Homo sapiens: one gene and its partners. The protein of the gene in region 1 purifies or fractionates together with the protein of each later gene. This does not show direct contact. Each region holds a gene or a part of one and is shown on either strand. Other genes may lie near its edges.

The links. The genes of interacting proteins can lie anywhere in the genome.
Region 2: the proteins of CYBRD1 (region 1) and MIER2 purify together in Homo sapiens (affinity purification with mass spectrometry; 2 studies listed by BioGRID and IntAct, with this or other methods). This does not show direct contact.
Region 3: the proteins of CYBRD1 (region 1) and MIER1 purify together in Homo sapiens (affinity purification with mass spectrometry; 2 studies listed by BioGRID and IntAct, with this or other methods). This does not show direct contact.

The regions. Positions count from the first base shown.
Region 1 is NC_000002.12:171,539,457-171,546,487, reverse strand, and holds part of CYBRD1 (plasma membrane ascorbate-dependent reductase CYBRD1), read right to left. Parts: intron 4,904-7,031; coding exon 4,695-4,903; intron 1-4,694. UniProt on the Homo sapiens protein: Plasma membrane reductase that uses cytoplasmic ascorbate as an electron donor to reduce extracellular Fe(3+) into Fe(2+).
Region 2 is NC_000019.10:306,778-313,808, forward strand, and holds part of MIER2 (mesoderm induction early response protein 2), read right to left. Parts: intron 6,867-7,031; coding exon 6,715-6,866; intron 5,496-6,714; coding exon 5,414-5,495; intron 5,163-5,413; coding exon 5,068-5,162; intron 2,149-5,067; coding exon 2,024-2,148; intron 1,889-2,023; coding exon 1,800-1,888; intron 760-1,799; coding exon 342-759; intron 1-341. UniProt on the Homo sapiens protein: Transcriptional repressor.
Region 3 is NC_000001.11:66,983,978-66,989,138, reverse strand, and holds the end of MIER1 (mesoderm induction early response protein 1), read right to left. Parts: intron 4,568-5,161; coding exon 4,239-4,567; 3' UTR 2,737-4,238; coding exon of another isoform or gene 2,666-2,736; 3' UTR 520-2,665; downstream 1-519. UniProt on the Homo sapiens protein: Transcriptional repressor regulating the expression of a number of genes including SP1 target genes. Probably functions through recruitment of HDAC1 a histone deacetylase involved in chromatin silencing.

The sequences.
Region 1 (7,031 bases):
GTTCTTAACCATGAAGGTACCTATGATCAATAGTAGAAGTGGAAAATGTCATCTGCAGGTCATAAAGGGGCATACCACAGGATTTACACTTATAATAACAACAGCTAGTTTGTGTTATACCAGTGTGCTAAGCCCTGGGCTGGACCTTTAGATGCATTATTTGGCTTTGATTCTTATGATTTTGTGAAGGATTATAATCCTTGATTTATAGCTGTGCAAAAGAAATTCAGAGAAGTAACTTGGTCCACGGTCACCAACTATCAAATGGATGAACCTAATCCAAACTGAGGTCTTCCTAATTGCAAATCCTGTTTTCTTAAACACTACCTGTCCTCTGGATCTGAGCAAGGAAGAAGCCAGGTGCCAAAATTCCTCCCACTAAGCAAAGCCATGAAGTTGTGAAATAATATTTCTGAGAAGCTCGGTTAGCACAAAGACAACAACGCGAGATATGAATCTGGATATTTCAGACAGCAAAAGAGAATTTTGAGACAAATATGTTTTTAACTCACCCAAGTTTAAAAATAGAATATATTTATATAATTGACTACATTAAGATGTTAAAGAAGAAAACTTAAGGTAGGGTGTTTACCGTTAGTAATAATTTATTGTATATTTCAAAATACCTAGAAGAGAAGAACTGGAATGCTCCCAACACAAAGTAAAGATAAATGAAATAATGGGTATCCCAATTACCCTGATTTGTTCATTACCCATTGTATACTTTTATCAAAATATCATATGTACCACAAAAATATGTTATGATTATTATACATCAATTAAAAAATAAATAAACATTGGCCGGACGTGATGGTTCACACCTGTAATCCCAGCACTTTGGGAGGCCGAGGCGGGTGGATCATTTGAGGTCAGGAGTTCGAGACCAGCCTGACCAACATGGTGAAACCCCGTCTCTACTAAAAAAAAAAAAAAAAAAAAAAATTAGCCACATGTTGTGGCACGAGCCTGTAATCCCAGCTACTCGGGAGGCTGAGGCAGGAGAATTGCTTGAGCCTAGGAGGCAGGTGTTGCAGTGAGCCAAGGTGGCAGCACTGCACTCCAGCCTGGGTGATAGAGCAAGACTCCATCTCAAAAAAAAAAAACAAAAAAGGTATATTCATCTCAGCAGAGATAGCAAAAGCATTCAATAAAATTCCACATCCATTTATGATTTAAGAAGAAAAACAAAACCTTTGCACAAACAGGGGTAGGAGGAAATGTGACGCATCTGTACTCAATGGTAAAATATTAGAAGCATTCTTTTTATTTATTAATTCTTTTTTAGCCTTTGGCAGGCATTCTCTTTAAAATAAAAAATAGTCAAAGATTCTTTTTTTTTTTTTTTTTTTGAGACAGGGTCTTGCTGTGTCACCCAGGCTGGAGTTCAGTGGTGGGATCTCAGCTCACTGCAGCCTTGACCTCCCAGGCTTAAGCAATCCTCCTATCTCAGCCTTCTGAGTAGCTGGGACCACAGGTGTGCACCACCAGAGCTGGCTTATTTTTATATCTTTTGTACAGACGGGGTTTTGCCATGTTTCCCAGGCTGGTCTGGAACTCCTGAGCTCAAGCAATCCTCCCACCTAGGCATCCCAAAGTGCTGGAATTATGGGTATGAGCCACTGTGCCTGGCCCCAAAAGTCAAAGATTTTTCTCTCTACTTCTCTACTTCTTATGGCTTCTATACACTTCTACATACTTCAGTACTTCTACACACTTGAATTCTGTACTGCACTGGCTAGGATACAGAGGATAAGATACTCTATAGGATGCAATTGGCTTTGTACATAAATAGTAGGAGCAGAGATGATTCAATAAATGGTGATGGGAAGATAGTTTACCCATCTGGAAAAAAATGAAGTTGAATCACATCACCTCACACATTAAAATTAATTCCAGATGAAGTAAGTACTTAAATATCAAAGACAAAACTATTTTTCATATTGTTGGGGTTTTTTTGGTTTGTTTTTTCTGTGTACTAGAGTAGAAAAGTAAAAGACAAAATTTTAATGCTCTTAGTAGAAAGCATAAGATGATATTTTGACCTCAGGGTAGAGAAGAATTTCATAAACAAGTCACCAAAAGAAAACAAAACAAAGAATGATAGTCTCAGAGGAAAAGATGATTAATTTGGTTACATTAAAATTGACAATTTCTGTTTATCAAAAGATGTTAACAACAGAGAAAATGCAAGCTTCAAACTAGGAGAAGATATAGCAATATATATAAATGAAAAAGAATTCGATATAGAATTCCTATAAATCTTTAAGAAAAAGAGAAACATTTTTTAAATAGACAAAAGACACAAACAGGTGTGTCTTAGAAGATAAAACACAAGTGAAATGAACATTAAAACTACAAGAATACATCATTAAGTACCAACTAGTTTAGCAAGGATTTAAAGTTTAAAGAGGGTGCAAGCTGGTAAGGATATGGGAACTCATAAACTTCTGGCAGGAATATAATCTGGGTCAATCACTTGGGAAAACAATTTAGCATTATCTTTTTAGGTTGAGCTTGTAATTTCACTACTATGTATATGCCCAGAGAAACCTTTAGATGTGAGGACCAGGAGATGTATATATGAATATTCAATGCAGCATAGTTTCTAACTGAAAATAGCAAGAGAACAGGTAAGTAAATTTGTGGCATATTTATACAGTGGAATACAAAAGTAAAAATGAATGAACTATAGCCAGAGGAATCAATACAGTTTAATCAGTAGAGTTAAAAAAAAGTTGCAATAGAATATATATGAGACCATTTTTTAAAAAAAGTTTCATTTAAAAAGCAAAATTAAACAATATATGATTTAATTAATCAATATTTAAACATCTTGTTTAATTAATCAATATTATTTAATTAAACATCTTGTTTAATCAATATATTGATTCACAGTATGTGATTAAAGTATTTTAAAAAGCAGAGAATGAGAATAAACACCGGGAGAATGGTAACCTCTAGGGGTTGGGGTAGGTAAGAACTTTATCTGGTTGAGGAGAAGAGATGAGGAGGAAGGAGAAGGAGAAGTCAGAGAGTTTCCAAGCCAGCGAGATGGACTGGATGTCCATTGCTGGTAGGGAGATGAAGGGAGCCGGGTACAAGGAAGAGAGGACTCCAAGGTTCAGGGCAGCCCCAGCTGATGGCCAGCAAGGGAACAGGGACCTCAGTCCTGCACATACAAGGACCTGGACTCTGCCATCAAGCTGAATTTGCTTTAAGCTGATTCTACCCTAGTCTCCCAATCAGAGCCCTGGAAGGCTGACACCTTGATACTGGCCTTGTTAGACCCAGAGCAGAGAAACCAGACAAGCCAATCTGGACTTCTGATGTACAGGTACTGTGAGGTCATAAATTTATGTTGTTTCAGGCCATTAAGTCTGTGGTAATTGGTTACCACAATAGAAAATGAATTATTTATGGATTTTTTTTTACCTTTATTGATTTACTTTTCCTGGTATATTTTGCTGTTCCCTTATAGTTACCTAAGTAAATAGCTTATGTATTTTAAGTTTTCTTTCCAAAAAATATAATAAAAGCATTTAAGCCTATATTCCTCTGGGAACCATTTTAATTAAACCCCAAAGATTTTTATTTATTTATTTTTTTGAGATCAGGGTCTGGCTCTGTTGCCCAGGCTGGAGTGCAATGGTATAATCTCAGCTTACTGTAACCTCTGCCTCCTGGTCTCAAGGGAGCTGTGCACCTCATCATCCCAAGTAGCCAGGACAACAGGTGTGCACCACCCTGCCCAGCTAATTTTTGTGTTTTTGTTTTAGAGATGAGGTTCCGCCATGTTGCCCAAGCTGATCTCAAACGTCTGGGCTTAAGCGATCCACTGGTCTCAGCTTTTCAAAGTGCTGGGATCACAGGAGTGAGCAGTGCACTATGCCCAGCCAGGACCCACAGATTTTTAAATAGGTATTCTCTTTATTGCTAATTGTTAGATCAGTCTCTCTCTTGATTTCTCTCTCTCTCGATCTCTCTCTCTGTCTTTCCTTTATTTGTAGAGACAGTCTCCCTATGTTGCCCAGTCTGGTCTTGAACTTCGGAGCTCAAATGATCCTCCCACCTCGGCCTTCGAAAATGCTGGAATTATAGGCATGAGCCAGCATGCCCAGCCTGATATTTCTTAATTTTACATATTAAGATATAGAGCAGAGTATAAGTTGGTTTTTAGAGAATCCAGATTAAAAGTCATATCCAGTATAAGAAATCTTTATTTCTTATTATTTTGTTCTGTGAATTCTGCAATTCTGGTGCTCTCTGAGGGGAAAATAGTTATAATAGAAACAAATGTAAAGAATGTTTAGAAAACATTTACAGTCACTGGGCGCGGTGGCTCACACCTGTAATCCTAGCACTTTGGGAGGCTGAGGCAGGCGGATCACCTGAGGTCAGGAGTTCAAGACTAGCCTGGCCAACATGGTGAAACCCCATCTCTACTAAAATACAAAAATTAGCCTGGCACGATGGTGGGTACCTGTAATCCCAGCTACTTGGGAGGCTGAAACAGGAGAATCACTTGAACCCTGGAGACAGTGGTTGCAGTGAGCCAAGATCGCAGCACTGCACTCCAGCCTGGGTGGCTAAGCGAGACTCTGTCTCAAAAAAAAAAAAAAAAAAAAAGAAAAGAAAACATTTACAGTCTCTGAATTGTTTTTATAACTTGCTTGTAAATACACTGAAATACTGACCTGTAACAAATAGCATATGACAGCTATCAGTCCAACCCAGCTGTGCAGACTGTACATATTGGCTATATTGTTAACATTGTGGTTCTCAAACACGGCCACCACAGAGATAATTGCAAGAATGGCAGCAACTGCATTTAACCCTGCATGGATGGATTTCATCAGGAGCTTGCTGCATTTCCAGGTCCACGGCAGTCTGTAGACGATGATGGCTAGGGAAAGACGAAAGGACACAGAATGTGTTTTGTTTTGTTTTTTAAACAACACAAAATGAACAGTTTGACACACTGGACACTCCCTTTTTGAAACCTTTTTCCCTTGGCTTTTGCTTCTCCCCTCTTCCCCATGTTACCCCTGCCTCTCAGTGGCTCCCTCTAGGGGACGGTGGAGGAGTTCCTTTGCTGGCATTTTCTTCACTCCCAACTTGTGAATGAACCTTGGTGCCTCTCAGGCTCGGTCCTAGGGCTTTTTCTCCCTCTGCACTCCCTCTTGTGGGTGATCTCATTCACTCTTTCACTGAAATGCTGTCTCCATGGCAGGGACTCCAAAAAATTTATATCTCCAGCCCAGAACTGTCTTCTAAGCTTCAGATCTGCATAATCCAATGTCTTCTTGGTATTTCCGTACGGCGTTTGCTTCCCAGACATCTCAAACTTATCCAAAACCAAATTCCTAATCTTAACAATCTGATTTATGCCTGTTGTCTCCTTTCTTCTTAAAAATGTCTCAGTTTGGCCGGGCCCAGTGGCTCATGCCTGTAATCCCAGCACTTTGAGAGGCTGAGGCGGGGTATCACTTGAGGTCAGCAGTTCAAGACCAGCCTGGCCAACATGGTGAAACCCCATCTCTACTAAAAATACAAAAATTAGCCAGGCATGGGGTGGCATGCACATGTAATCCCAGCTATTCTGGAGGCTGAGGCACGAGAATCGCTTGAACCCGGGAGGCAGAGGTTGCAGTGAGCCGAGATTGCGCCACTGCACTCCAGCCTGGGCAACAGAGGAAGACAAAAAAAAAAAAAAAAGTCTTAGTTTGATAAGAAAAAGAAAGGAACAGAAAAACATGCAAATTTAAACCATGCAATAGAGAAATACAAATTTAAGCCGAATGAGAATACCTCTACCACATATCTGAATGGCTAAACCTGGAAAACACCAAGTATCAAAATGAATATACAGCAGTCAGAACTCTAATGTTCTGCTGATGAGTGCTTTAATGAGAACAAAACTTTGGAAAACTGGCAGTATCTACTTAAGGTAAAGTTATGCATACCTTATTGTCCAGCAATTTCACTCTCGGGTATATGCCAAAAAGAAATATTTATATGATCATCAAAAGATACTAGAATATTATTAGCAGTACTATTTATAGTAACCAAAACCTGGAAACTCCCCCAAATGCCCATCATCAATAGAATGAATAAATAAATTTACACCATGGAAAGAAACGATCTACAACTAGAACTAGACCCAGTAATATGGATCAACCTATAATGTCAATCTCAAGAAGCCAGACGTTAACAAGTATATAGTGTAATTCAATTTATATGAAGTATAGAAACCAGCAAAACTCATCTCTGCATTGGAAAAGTCAGGATAGTAGTTGCCTTCGTGGGGAAGGATACAGCAATTACAATGGAACACACAAGGGATTTTGAAGACTCCTACTAACATTCTGTTTCTCAATCTAGGTGCTGGTTTCACAGGTGTCATAGACAGAAGATTCATCATTCTGCATGTAGAACAAACTCCAATTAAGTTTTTTATGGCCTGGCGCGGTGGCTCACGCCTGTAATCCCAACACTTTGGGAGGCCGAGGTGGGCAGATCACTTGAGGTCAGGAGTTCAAGACCAGCCTGACCAACATGGTGAAACCCTGTCTCTACTAAAAATACAAAAAAATTAGCCAGGCATTGTGGTGCATACCTGTAATCTCAGCTATTTGGGAGGCTGAGGCAGGAGAATCGCTTGAACCTGGGAGGCAGAGGTTGCAGTGAGCTGAGATCATGCCACTGCACTCCAGCCTGGGTGACAGAGCAAGACTCCGTCTCGGGGAAAAAAAAAAAAAGAAAACAAAAGTTTTTTTACAAAGGGTTGTCTTAAGTGTCCTGGTTTAAGCAATAAATTATATGGCCACCTTAACCAACATTCAGTTAATTTTTGTTCTGAAGATAAAATCCTGCCCCTATCCATCCCTCCAGTCTGTGTCAGGGAAAATTTAGATATCTGGAAATGTGTGGCAGATTGAAAAAGTTTATAGAATACTTCCTCAGACGATGGATTCCACTATATCAGCAGGGTATCACGTATATTTCTTTTCTTTTCTTTCTCTGTCACCCAG
Region 2 (7,031 bases), on another chromosome or scaffold:
GTGCTGAGCGCTGGACTCGAGACTCCCAGCCTTGCCTCCCCCACAGCCTATGGCAGCCGGGCCCGGGGTGCCCTGAGGGGAGCTGGTGGCTGGAGCAGGGGTGGGACAGCCTGGCACCTGCTCCCATTTGTGGAGAATGTGGACCACATGAATGTATTCTCCAGTCAAAAAATACATACAAGTAAAGAATAAACCTAAAGACACACTGAGAGCCTGCTCGTGGAGCCACACTGTCCTCGGGTCCTTGGGGCAAATGCCTCCCACCCTCCTCTGCTCAGCCTGAGGGCTGGGGGGACCTGGTTGGAGTGTTGCGGAGGCTCCGGGCATGGGGTGGCACTCACTGTGACAGGGGCTCCGAGTGTAGCCCGGGGGCCGGGCACGTGGGGTGGGCGGCCAGGAAGGGGTTCACGTCCCCAATGCCGATGAGTCCAAACTCGGTGACCGACAAAGCCACCTGTGCTGGGGCCACAGTCTCCTCCGGATCCCCGCTGAGGTCCACATGGCTGGAGATGAGGGGCAGCTCCTTGGGCAGGGCGAAGTCCACGGCCAGCCTTGGGCTGGCGTCTGGCTCCGGAGCAGTGACAGCTGGCTGGTATGAGGCTGGGTCGGCCAGGGCTGGGGGCCGATGGGACAGGGGTACAGCGGGGGACTCATCCAGCTGCTGGAAGGAACACGGCCCTGGCTCCGAGGACGGGAGTCCATCAGAGGCCACTCCGGGCTCATCGAGACCACCGGCCGTGCCATCCACGCTCAGTGGATCTGTGAAAGAGAACGCAACAGAGGGTGGGGCCTGCCCACAGCCGCGGATCCTGTGCAGGCTCCTGCCTAACTTTGCTGGGTCCAGCAAAGCCTGTGGATCCCTCCCCAGAAAAGCCTCCACACAAATACAAAAGACACCAGTTACACTGAAATCCGCGAGCCCCAGGTTAAGGGTCTCAGCTTTAGAAGTAGATTTTAGTTCATCAGACCAACAGTGGGTCACAACCCACATCTTTAAAAAGAGCAGAATACAATAGACATAGGTGTAAACAATGCCGGGGGCACTGCAGAGGGTAAATACAGGGTCTGTGGAATACACAGACTTAGGTGTAAACAATGCCGGGGGCGCTGCGAGGGCTAATACAGGGTCTTTGGAAGTTTTGTTCCCACAGGCAGCGCAAGGGGCCTCACCACAATTCTAGGAAGTAGCCGAGGTGGACACCCTTTGGCAAACAAACCATGGAAACAACCAGACTCTGGAAATGGGGGACCCTCCCAGACTCAACCATCTAAACACAGAGCCAGAAAGCAAAGGATCCTCGTTTGCACCCTCCCCGTGTGGGTCTCCACCTTCGGACGCCACATCAGACACCACCATCGGACATGGTCCCTACCCGAGGCCCTGCTGTGCTCCGTCATGGCCTCAGGTGCAAGATCCTGGCGACGGCTCCGGACACCCTGTCCTTCCTGAGTGTCCTGGTGACGGGCTAAGTCCCCACCCTGGGGCAGGAAGGCCCTCCCCGGAGACTGAGGCCTGGTAAATACCCCAACCTCACCATACGGGGCTCCCCAGCAGTGGGGCCACATGCACCCCTCCAGCAAGCCCAGAGGGTAAGCGTAATCCCTGCCCTCCCCTCTCCCAGCCAGGTGTACAGAGCGGCATCCACATCACGTGGCTGCCCTCCGCCACCCAGACGCCCACTCCTCCTGGCGAGGCTGGCCCAGCACAGGGCGCCAGGCAGGAGAGGCTCCACCGGGCCTCACTCACGGCTCCAGACCCGTGGCCGCCCCCAGGGCAGGAGATACTCCCCAAGCCTCACCTGTGCGCATCCCAGTCAGGGTGTCTTGCTCCGGGCGCGGACGGCCGGGGCCATCGGGGTCGCTGCCATCCAGGTCCTGGTCTGCGTCCCTGTGGGGAGAGGGCGCCATGAGGGGCGGCAGACAGGACAGACGCCCCCACCCAAGAGGTGCCGCCCAGGCGCCCACGTGCCCACCCCCGGCGGGGTGGCCGCCTGTCGTTACTGCTGGGGAGGGCTGCACGCACGTGGTTCCGGACGGGACGTACTTCCTCCGGCCCAGCCGCGTCTGCTGGGCGAAGTAGTCGTAGCGCTCCGACTTCTTCCACAGGTAGTAGTACTCGACACACTCGCCCACTGACCGTGTGCGCACCTGCGGGGAGGGGTCAGGAGCCATCTCTGTCCCCGGCTGCCCAGCCCCAGCACCTGCACCACGATCCCAGGACGTCCTGGGACCCCGGGACAGCACAGAAGGAGCACAGCACCCACCACTCTCAGATAACGCAAGACCCCCCGACCCATGACCCTAACAGGCCACAGGCTATGCCCACCACAGGGAACAGGGGCTCGGAGCACTGTGGCACTGCCTCCTGTTTCAAGCCCCCTCAGAGCCCTCCAGCTCCTGGCTTGAGACCCCTTTCCCTTCTGTAGCATCAGCCAGACAAACGTACCCTCCAGGCCTCTGTCTACTGCTCACCCACCCCATCCCAGACCATGAGCCACGGGCCAGTTGCGTCCACCTCATCTGCCTGCTTCTCACAGGCCCGGGGTGGGAGTGGGAGTGACAACCCCCGGGTCCACAGACTCCTGGACTGAGCCCCTTCCCCGGGAGGAAGAGGCACAAGCCCGCGGCGCCTGCTTTCCCACCGAACACATCCCTCCAGGGCCCAGCGAATGCTTCCCAAGTGCACAGAAGACACCGCAGAAGGACACATGGGTTCTGTGAACCCGACAAAATTCCCAACGTAGCACATAAAGGGCCAAACACACATGCACACAGGCTTCAGGGAGACGAGAAGGGACACACACACACACACACACAAGGCTTCAGGGAGACGAGAAGGGACACACACACGCACACAAGGCTTCAGGGAGACGAGAAGGGACACACACACACACACACACACAAGGCTTCAGGGAGACGAGAAGGGACACACACACGCACACAAGGCTTCAGGGACACGAGAAGGGACACACACACACGCACACAAGGCTTCAGGGAGACGAGAAGGGACACACACACACACACACAAGGCTTCAGGGAGACGAGAAGGGACACACACACACACGCACACAAGGCTTCAGGGAGACGAGAAGGGACACACACGCACACAAGGCTTCAGGGACACGAGAAGGGACACACACACACACGCACACAAGGCTTCAGGGAGACGAGAAGAGACACACACACGCACACAAGGCTTCAGGGAGACGAGAAGGGACACACACACACACGCACACAAGGCTTCAGGGAGACGAGAAGGGACACACACACACACGCACACAAGGCTTCAGGGACACGAGAAGGGACACACAGCAAGTGTGTTCCATGTGGCACCTGGCACAGAGCTGGGCGCACACCTGGCAACACCTCCAACATCTCCACCCGGGAGGCTCATCCCACAGAGAGCTTGAGGCTGTGGCCACTGCTGGTGATGGCGGAAAAGACCCCCTCACCTGGACATGCTCTGGGCCAACTAACCCACCGCCACCCAGAACGAGGATGCCCCATGCTCACCGCTGCGAGAACAACGTGGGGTCCTGCCTGGGGGCGAGACCGAGACAACCTCCCTGCAGGGCAAACCTCAAACGCACGCCACGAGGGAGCTCTTCTGTGAAGGGCCAGGGTGAAATACGCACTGGCTCAGGCTGACCAACGTGTGCTGGCTACACACGGCCCCTCGCGGCTGGGCCAGGACCTGCCCGGAGCTCCAGAAACACGGCCGGGAGTTACAAAAACGCGGCCCTGAGCTATAGAAACACGGCCCGGAGCTGCAGAAACACGGCCCGGAGCTATAGAAACACGGCCGGGAGCTGCAGAAACACAGCCGGGAGCTATAGAAACACAGCCCGGAGCTATAGAAACAGCCCAGAGTCCAGAAACACAGCCCGAAGCTCCAGAAACACAGCCCAGAGCTATAGAAACACGGCCCGGAGCTATAGGAACATGGCCCGGAGCTGTAGAAACACAGCCCGGAGCTACAGAAACACGGAGTCCATAGAAACACGGCCCAGAGTCCAGAAACACAGCCTGGAGCTGTAGAAACACGGCCAGGAGTCCAGAAACACGGCCCACAACTCCAGAAACACGGCCCGGAGCTACAGAAACTTGACAGGGGCTCCAAGTGTAGCCTGGGAGCACCACACTCCAGCCACACCTCGCCCCGCTGTCTCCAATCAAAACACCACGTGGTGCTGGAGTCTGACAAGGACAGTCCATCGCTGCTGCGCACGGCACCGCACAGTCACCTGAGCAATGTCCTGAGCCGTACAACCAGCCCCGGGCAGGTGCCTCCTCACCCAAGCCCTTCAGTGGACGACATCGGGCCCCAAATGGAGCACGGTCCCAGGACACGAGGCAGAAGCAAGGCTCGGCAACAAGGCCACAGCCCACTGGTCCTGAAGGGACTCAGTGCCCAACCGGGGCGTGGACAGAGGCGGAGAAGCCACTGGTCAGAGCCATGGGAAGGTTTTCAGCCAGAGATGTCTGACTGCCAAGAGGCTGGCTTGGAAGTTACCACTCAAGAAGCCACAGGGCAGAGGGCACTGCTGCAGACATGCAGAGACCCACAGAGGACGTGGGGAAGGTCTAAGGAAGGGCAGAAGGCCCCGGCACTTGGCAGCACCTGCCTGTCATGAGGGTTTGTCCCGGGTGGCAGGACCTGGGTCCCTGGAGGAGGGAACCAGGAGACCCCTGGTCTCCAGGTGTCAGGGGTTCTGCTGTGGGGCCAATGCTGGACACTGAGCCAGCAGGCTCTGCTCAGAGGACACAGACTTGAAGATGAGGTGCCCAGGGCCCTGGGGTGGAATGTGAGGCAGAAACAACTACTAGAATTCAGCTTTTGCCACATTCTTTCCCAAAGCCAGAGCCTTGTTCTTGTGGGGACAGGAAAGGGGCCCACAGCAGTCAGTAGCAAAAAATGCAGAAGACAGCAATGGGCACACGGTGAGGAGGCGGACACAGGACACGGGGCTCCAGGCCTCCAGTCGGCCGTGTGCTGTGTGCCTGCGGACCCTGAGCCCCTCCCCAGATCGAGAAGCCCCCGGTGGAGCCTGGCAGTGGAGTCCGCACCTTGTTGGCCTGGATCAGGTGAAAGTTCTTTCCATGCACACGGAAGCCGTGCTCAAAGTTCCTGCACTCCTCTTCACTCCAAGCACAGAGCCCATCTGCAAACACGGCCGGGGAGAACGGTCAGTGGTGCCCAGGGCGGGGCCGCAGCGGAAGGAAGGCCCAGGCCGGGGAGAACAGTCAGCGGCGCCCAGGGCGGGGCCGCAGCGGAAGGAAGGCCCAGGCCGGGGAGAACGGTCAGCGGCGCCCAGGGCGGGGCCGCAGCGGAAGGAAGGCCCAGGCCGGGGAGAACGGTCAGCAGTGCCCAGGGCGGGGCCGCAGCGGAAGGAAGGCCCAGACCGCTGCTCACCTCGGATCACCTTCACGTTGAACCGCAGCCTTCGCAGGGCCTCCTCCACATTGAAGTTGCATTTCACCAACTCGTACAGCGCCTGGGGAGAGGACATGTTGGCTCTTCCATGGGCTCAGCGCAGGAGCCGACAGCAAGAACTGTCTATACCATCCAGCGAGTGGCATCAGGGGCCGTCCACACCACCCTCCTGGGCGATGTCAGAGCCACCTACACCTCTATCCAGGGAGTGACATCAGGGGCCGTCCACACCACCCTCCTGGGCGATGTCAGGGCCACCTACACCTCTATCCAGGGAGTGACATCAGGGGCCGTCCACACCACCCTCCTGGGCGATGTCAGGGCCACCTACACCTCTATCCAGGGAGTGACATCAGGGGCCGTCCACACCACCCTCCTGGGCGATGTCAGAGCCACCTACACCTCTATCCAGGGACTGGCATCAGGGGCCGTCCACACCACCCTCCTGGGCGATGTCAGGGCCACCTACACCTCTATCCAGGGAGTGACATCAGGGGCCGTCCACACCACCCTCCTGGGCGATGTCAGGGCCACCTACACCTCTATCCAGGGAGTGACATCAGGGGCCGTCCACACCACCCTCCTGGGCGATGTCAGGGCCACCTACACCTCTATCCAGGGAGTGACATCAGGGGCCGTCCACACCACCCTCCTGGGCAATGTCAGGGCCACCTACACCTCTATCCAGGGAGTGACATCAGGGGCCGTCCACACCACCCTCCTGGGCGATGTCAGGGCCACCTACACCTCTATCCAGGGAGTGACATCAGGGGCCGTCCACACCACCCTCCTGGGCGATGTCAGGGCCACCTACACCTCTATCCAGGGAGTGACATCAGGGGCCGTCCACACCACCCTCCTGGGCGATGTCAGGGCCACCTACACCTCTATCCAGGGACTGGCATCAGGGGCCGTCCACACCACCCTCCTGGGCGATGTCAGAGCCACCTACACCTCTATCCAGGGACTGGCATCAGGGGCCGTCCACACCATCCTCCTGGGCGATGTCAGGGCCACCTACACCTCTATCCAGGGAGTGACATCAGGGGTGTCTACATCCCCTTGCAGGATACCCGGAGGCGTCTACACCTCCTCCCTGATACGTGGTTTTAATTGGCCCCCCTTCTGACCTGAGTAGCTGTTCCAGTGCCCTGGCCCCCACACACCTGACCCCTGCCCTCCCCTCTGCCCTCCCTGGCCCCTGGAGGCACTGGGGTGTGAGCTCTGGCCCACGCCACGGCAGCCCTCAGCCCCTCTGTCCCCGGCATGGCAGCCCCCACCTGCTCACTGTCTTTCACGGCTTCTCCCTCTGGGAGCTGAGGCCCGGCCATCTCGTGCCAACGCCGCTTCACCGCCCTGTACAGGAACTCCTCCACCTCCCTCTCAGGGAGGACGCTGGGGTCCCAGAGCAGCTGGTCTTCGTTCTCGTAGACTGCACAAGCAGAGGGCAAAGGTCAGCTTGCAGGAACCCAATCTGCACCCACACACGCCAGGACAAGCAAAGCAGCCAACTCAGCCCCTGACAGGGAGGAGGCACTGTCCGTCCTCCCTTTCCCAAGCCCTGGGCCGCCATCCCTGTGCTCCTCCTGGGCTTGGT
Region 3 (5,161 bases), on another chromosome or scaffold:
TGCTGTTATGGTAGAACCAGCTCTGCAGGAAATTTTTTTTTTAAAAGACAAAATTTCTTAGGGAAAATCATGCATTTCATGTTGGTTAATTTCCAGCAAATACGAAGTTTGACAAAAGAAAAATATTTAGCTAGACTTACATGGCAAAGAGGAAGGTAAACTCATTTTCTTGAGATCGTGCCTATTCCTCTTTTTGCTGTCTCTGTACTCAGAATACACTTTACTTTTCTACCATTAACACTTTGCTGCCTTCTTGAAGAACAGGGCATGCCGCATCTCTGAAGCCACAAGCCAAGCAAGCATAGTACCTGGTACAAGTATAGGCCGAAATATTTGCTGGATATTAGAGTATATGGAAACATAATGAAAGCTTGTCATCATTGACATTTAAATGTGAAACTGTCACCATCAATTTGGACAATTAGAATCCATCTCATCTCGTTTACATGGCAATTCTTCAATATTCTTCACAGAATAAGTAGCCTTTAAAAGTGTGTTCAAATTACTTCTTACTCAAGAGCAAGCAAAATGACATTTTAATTACATTATACATTCTATAATTCTTTATACTAACTAAAGACAAATTGAAAATAATCATATTCTGAAAAGGAAAAACTCCACGTCCGTATAGTTGGCAAAAGATCAGCACAATACTAAGGGTACATGACAAGAGTTTATGGAAAACTGGTATTAGAAAAGAAAGGTTAATCAGATATTCAGATACATGAAATCAGTCTGTAAGTGGGTGGATGGATGTGTGGAAAACCCTTTAAGATTCTGCAAAGGATGAACTTGATATTAAAGAAGAGAGTTAATTTTTACGGTAAAAAGTTGTATCAGTAGAATTATGTGATACAGAAAAAGTCATTTTGAGAGAAGAGAGTCATTTTTAGAATAAAAGGTTAAAATTTGGAAACTCCTGTTCTTCTGTATGTTACATGGTTTTCCACACTGGCATTTTTCATGAATATGGATTATAGTTGGGAAAACCTTACTATCTGATTTGGTATTTAGTTACACACCCCATGTAAATATTGCCTATTATATTCACCAGCCCTCAGTTATTCCAAGTGCCCACTCCTAATTATCCATCGATAGCAAAGAAAATATTGTGACAAAACAAGTTTTATTTTGCAAAACATAATGTGATATGAACTCCACTACAAAATACGGGAACACATTATTTTTAAATTATATAATCCAGCAGAAGAGAAACAGAGTGAATGGAGGTCTAGGGACTGAAAGGATCTCTTGTGGCAAAGGGGAAGAAGACAAAAATACATCACCCAAGATGTGGTAAAGGGGACCAAGAACCACTGAAAAAGTAGTGCAATATGTCTAGGAATAGAAGAAACAGACTGTGTATATATATATATTTGCCTTGTCAATAACATGCATCATTCAAACAATCTCTAATAAAATCTTAGTGAATTAATCTAATGAAAATATTCACACAGTATTATGTAGGCAAATATGTTTAAAAAAATATTTTAATAAGCATATTCAGAATGGCAGACAAGGAATGGGAGAAGGGAATTATTTTACAGTGCAAAATTACTATGCATAAATTTAACATCTAATTTGAAATTTTAAATGCCTATTTAAATATTACTTCAAATACATTTTAAAGCTCAACAAACTTGTGTTGAACTGAATTGCAGATCCTGAACTCTATTTGAAAATACATCATGAAACAGAAAATACCCATTCCAAATGAAAATGATAGTGCTTTGTTGGGGGTGGGAATGAGGCGGGGAGACTAAATCACTATTAACAGACTTCTTTTTCCAATGCAATTTGTCAAAAGTTCAAAAGTTCTGAAATGTACTAAATCTTAAGCAAATTAAATTCATGATATTACTAAAACTTTTTAAATAGTGCAATGACTTATCAAGTTATAGTGGCTGCATTAAGAACAAATTATTGTGTGAAATACCTGTATAAACACAAAATACAATTAAATATTTCTTTACAAAAAGCTGAGCATTACGCATAATAGTGGAATGTCTTTCATTAGGTGTATTTTTTAAAGATTAACAAAAGTAACATTTCCTAAAATGTATACATGTGCCATATTTTTGCAAACATGCCTGAGAATGTATTTAAAACATTTCTGTAGTAAGAGTTTGCAAGAACTTCACAAACCTGCAAATAAAATGCATCTTTTTAAAAAGGTGAAAATGGCATCTCCAACACTGCAACAATTCAAAAAGTACAGCATCCCTAATCTTTAAAAACATTTCTACAGACCATCTTTGACAAAGAGCTAGGATACTTTGGATTCATTTAATAAAAAATGATTTAGAAAACAGATTGTGACCATCTGCTTGCTAAAGCTACTGCCATTCTGGATAAATTAAAAGTTTTAAGTAAAACAAAAACAACAAAAAACTCATACTTCTCAACACTTCCACCCAAAACTTTGATTTACTTAGATATGTATGTAACAACAGTGAATGTACATTAAGATGAAGTCAAGTGTTGCAAAGTGGCTTTTAACACTGTTTGGGAAAAAAAGTTGTTCACATTGGTGAAGGGAAGCAGTCCGAACATATGTTAACAGTAATACTTCATGGGGGTAAGGCCTGAATGCTAATTTCTCAGTGCAAACCTTCACTCAATTACATCAGACAGTTGAGCCATTAAAAACAAGACCACAGAAGCTTTATTTTAAAAAGGCATTGGCTCTTGAACTGATGGCTGAAAAATGAACTGGAAGAAGCATTTGGAGTATGCCTGTGTGAGAAAAACAAGAATAATTAATATTTTATAAAAGTTTGGATATAGGTTGGTCTATCAGCTATATAAAACTACATTATTTAACAAGAATTTAGCACTAAAAATAAAATGGCACTTTTACAAGGCTATGCAGATGGATAATCCTATCTGTAATCACACAGAGCAATGATTATTGTGTATCTTATTTTCACTTTGGAAAAGCATTATCAAATCTGAAAAATTGGATTGTAACTAGAAAAGTTTGAAAAGTTTTCAAACTTCACTTTCTCTTCATAAAATCGATACTGCCTGCCAACAGTTGTTCCTTGTGTGTGCCAATATCTAAGTATCACTTGACCCCCCTCCTCTGTTTATTTAATGCAGAAATGGGAAATTTTATGATGCATATAAAAATAACAGGATTCTGGTCAGCATGATATATTTAAGCACTTAAGCTGACATTAAACTTTTGTCTTGCTTCAAAAATAATTTTGAAAATTATAGCAAATGCAAAACAAACTGCAATCTAAGCATCATGCTTAATTTCAGAATTCTCAAATTACTTGCCCTTAAGTAGAAATTTAAAAAAAAAAAAAAAAAAAAAAATTTTATAATCCTTTATGAATGCTTTAACCACCTGGATAAGAAATATGACTTAATTACTACACAAACACTTAAAAATTCATTAGAAAAACCTTAGCAAAATAAAATGAAAGCTGACAGACTCAGAATAACAATTCCTCTCATAAAAGTTTACCAACTGTACAAGTTAAGAAAATTATACACGCTTTTGTATTAAGAAAGGACAGCTCAGTCAAGACATATGTACTGTAAAAATCTTTCAAAGGCTACAAAGAATCTGGAAAAATACAGAATGTATTTCTTAAGCCCAGATAAGAATATGGAAAGACATCATTGATGTCAACAATTTTACATATACAAACCTGACCTGGTTTATTTTTAAACTTCTATATATAAAAAAATCATGCTAGCATAATTTTCAGGATTCGTAAGGGTTTCCTTAATAAAGATACTCAAACTGTTTGGTGAGAAAAATGTCTGTTTTAAAGACATTTCAAGAAACTCAGAGAAATTGGTATTAAGCAGAAATTTGGACTTGAGTTTCCCATTCATCCATCAAACTAAGCAAAAATTACCTTGTAGTGAAATTTTATGATTAATACATCAAATGAGAAGGTACAGATACATCTTTAGTTCATTCAGATTTACCAAAATTAGTAAATCTGAATGAACTAAAGATATTCAAATGAGAAGGTAGAGATATATCTTTAGTTCATTCAAATTTACTAATTTTTAAAATACCCTTAAAAGAGTCTGACAGCTTTAAAGTAAAAAAATCTGCAAAAGGCAGAATTATGAAACCTCATTTCCTAAAGTTAAGACTCAATTCAAATTTTCAAACTGCTTCAAGGAAATCAACTTTTTAAGGTAACCCATCAACCCTGAAAATTTTAGTCACACCAGAATTTACTCCAAAGAAAGTAAAATAGGTCTAAAATTTAGTCATCTGTGTTTTCAAGTTCTTCAAATTTCCCATGTGAGACTGCTTCTTGGAAAAATTCAGAAGAACCTGGACTTTCTTTTCCATTGCTGTTTACCCTTCGCCTTTTGGCAGGTCTCTCACTTTTTTCATCAAAATCATTTTCATTTCTTGCAGTCATATGGGCAAGTTTTGGGTCAGTGGTAAGGTTATCTGTTTCATAACCATTAGTATCCATATCTGCATGAAGTGGTTTCTTATTTCCACCTGTTGGTCCATTAATGTGTAACCCTTCAACTTTTACTTCCTCTTTGTTTAATATTTCACCTGGTCCATTAGATGACACTCCTAAGTTGAAAGAAATATAAATGAAACCACAATTAGAAAAAAGTTAAATTTGCAAACTATTATAAAACAGCTTGTAGTTATTGTTATCAAGGAAGCAAGGTATCAAATACATAGTCTAAATTCTTGCTCTATTACTTATAAGCTATGTCGCCTTAGGCAAATTATTTACTCTTTCTGTATCTCCATTTCATTACATATATACAATGAAGATCATAATAGATATTCCTCACAGGGTTGTTGTGAAAATTAAATAAGTTAATAAATGTAAAGAACTAAGAACAGAATTTGGCATATGTTAAAAGCATATTAGGTATATGTGACAGCAAACAAGCACTGGATCCAGCAGTCTAACTAAGCTGAATTAATGGAAAATGCAGTAAATTACTCAGATTTAACAAAAGGTTTTCAACATTCTAAAACCACGTAAAAGCAAGATGAATGCTCTTTCTTTAAAAAGCTTGAGTAAACTGCCATATAAAAGCAAGATGTCATGACTTTTTTATTCTTAATGTAAATCTATGGGAACTGTACTTTAAAAGATCACACAAGGCTGGGTGCAGTGGCTCACGCCTGTATTCCCAGCACTTTGGGAGG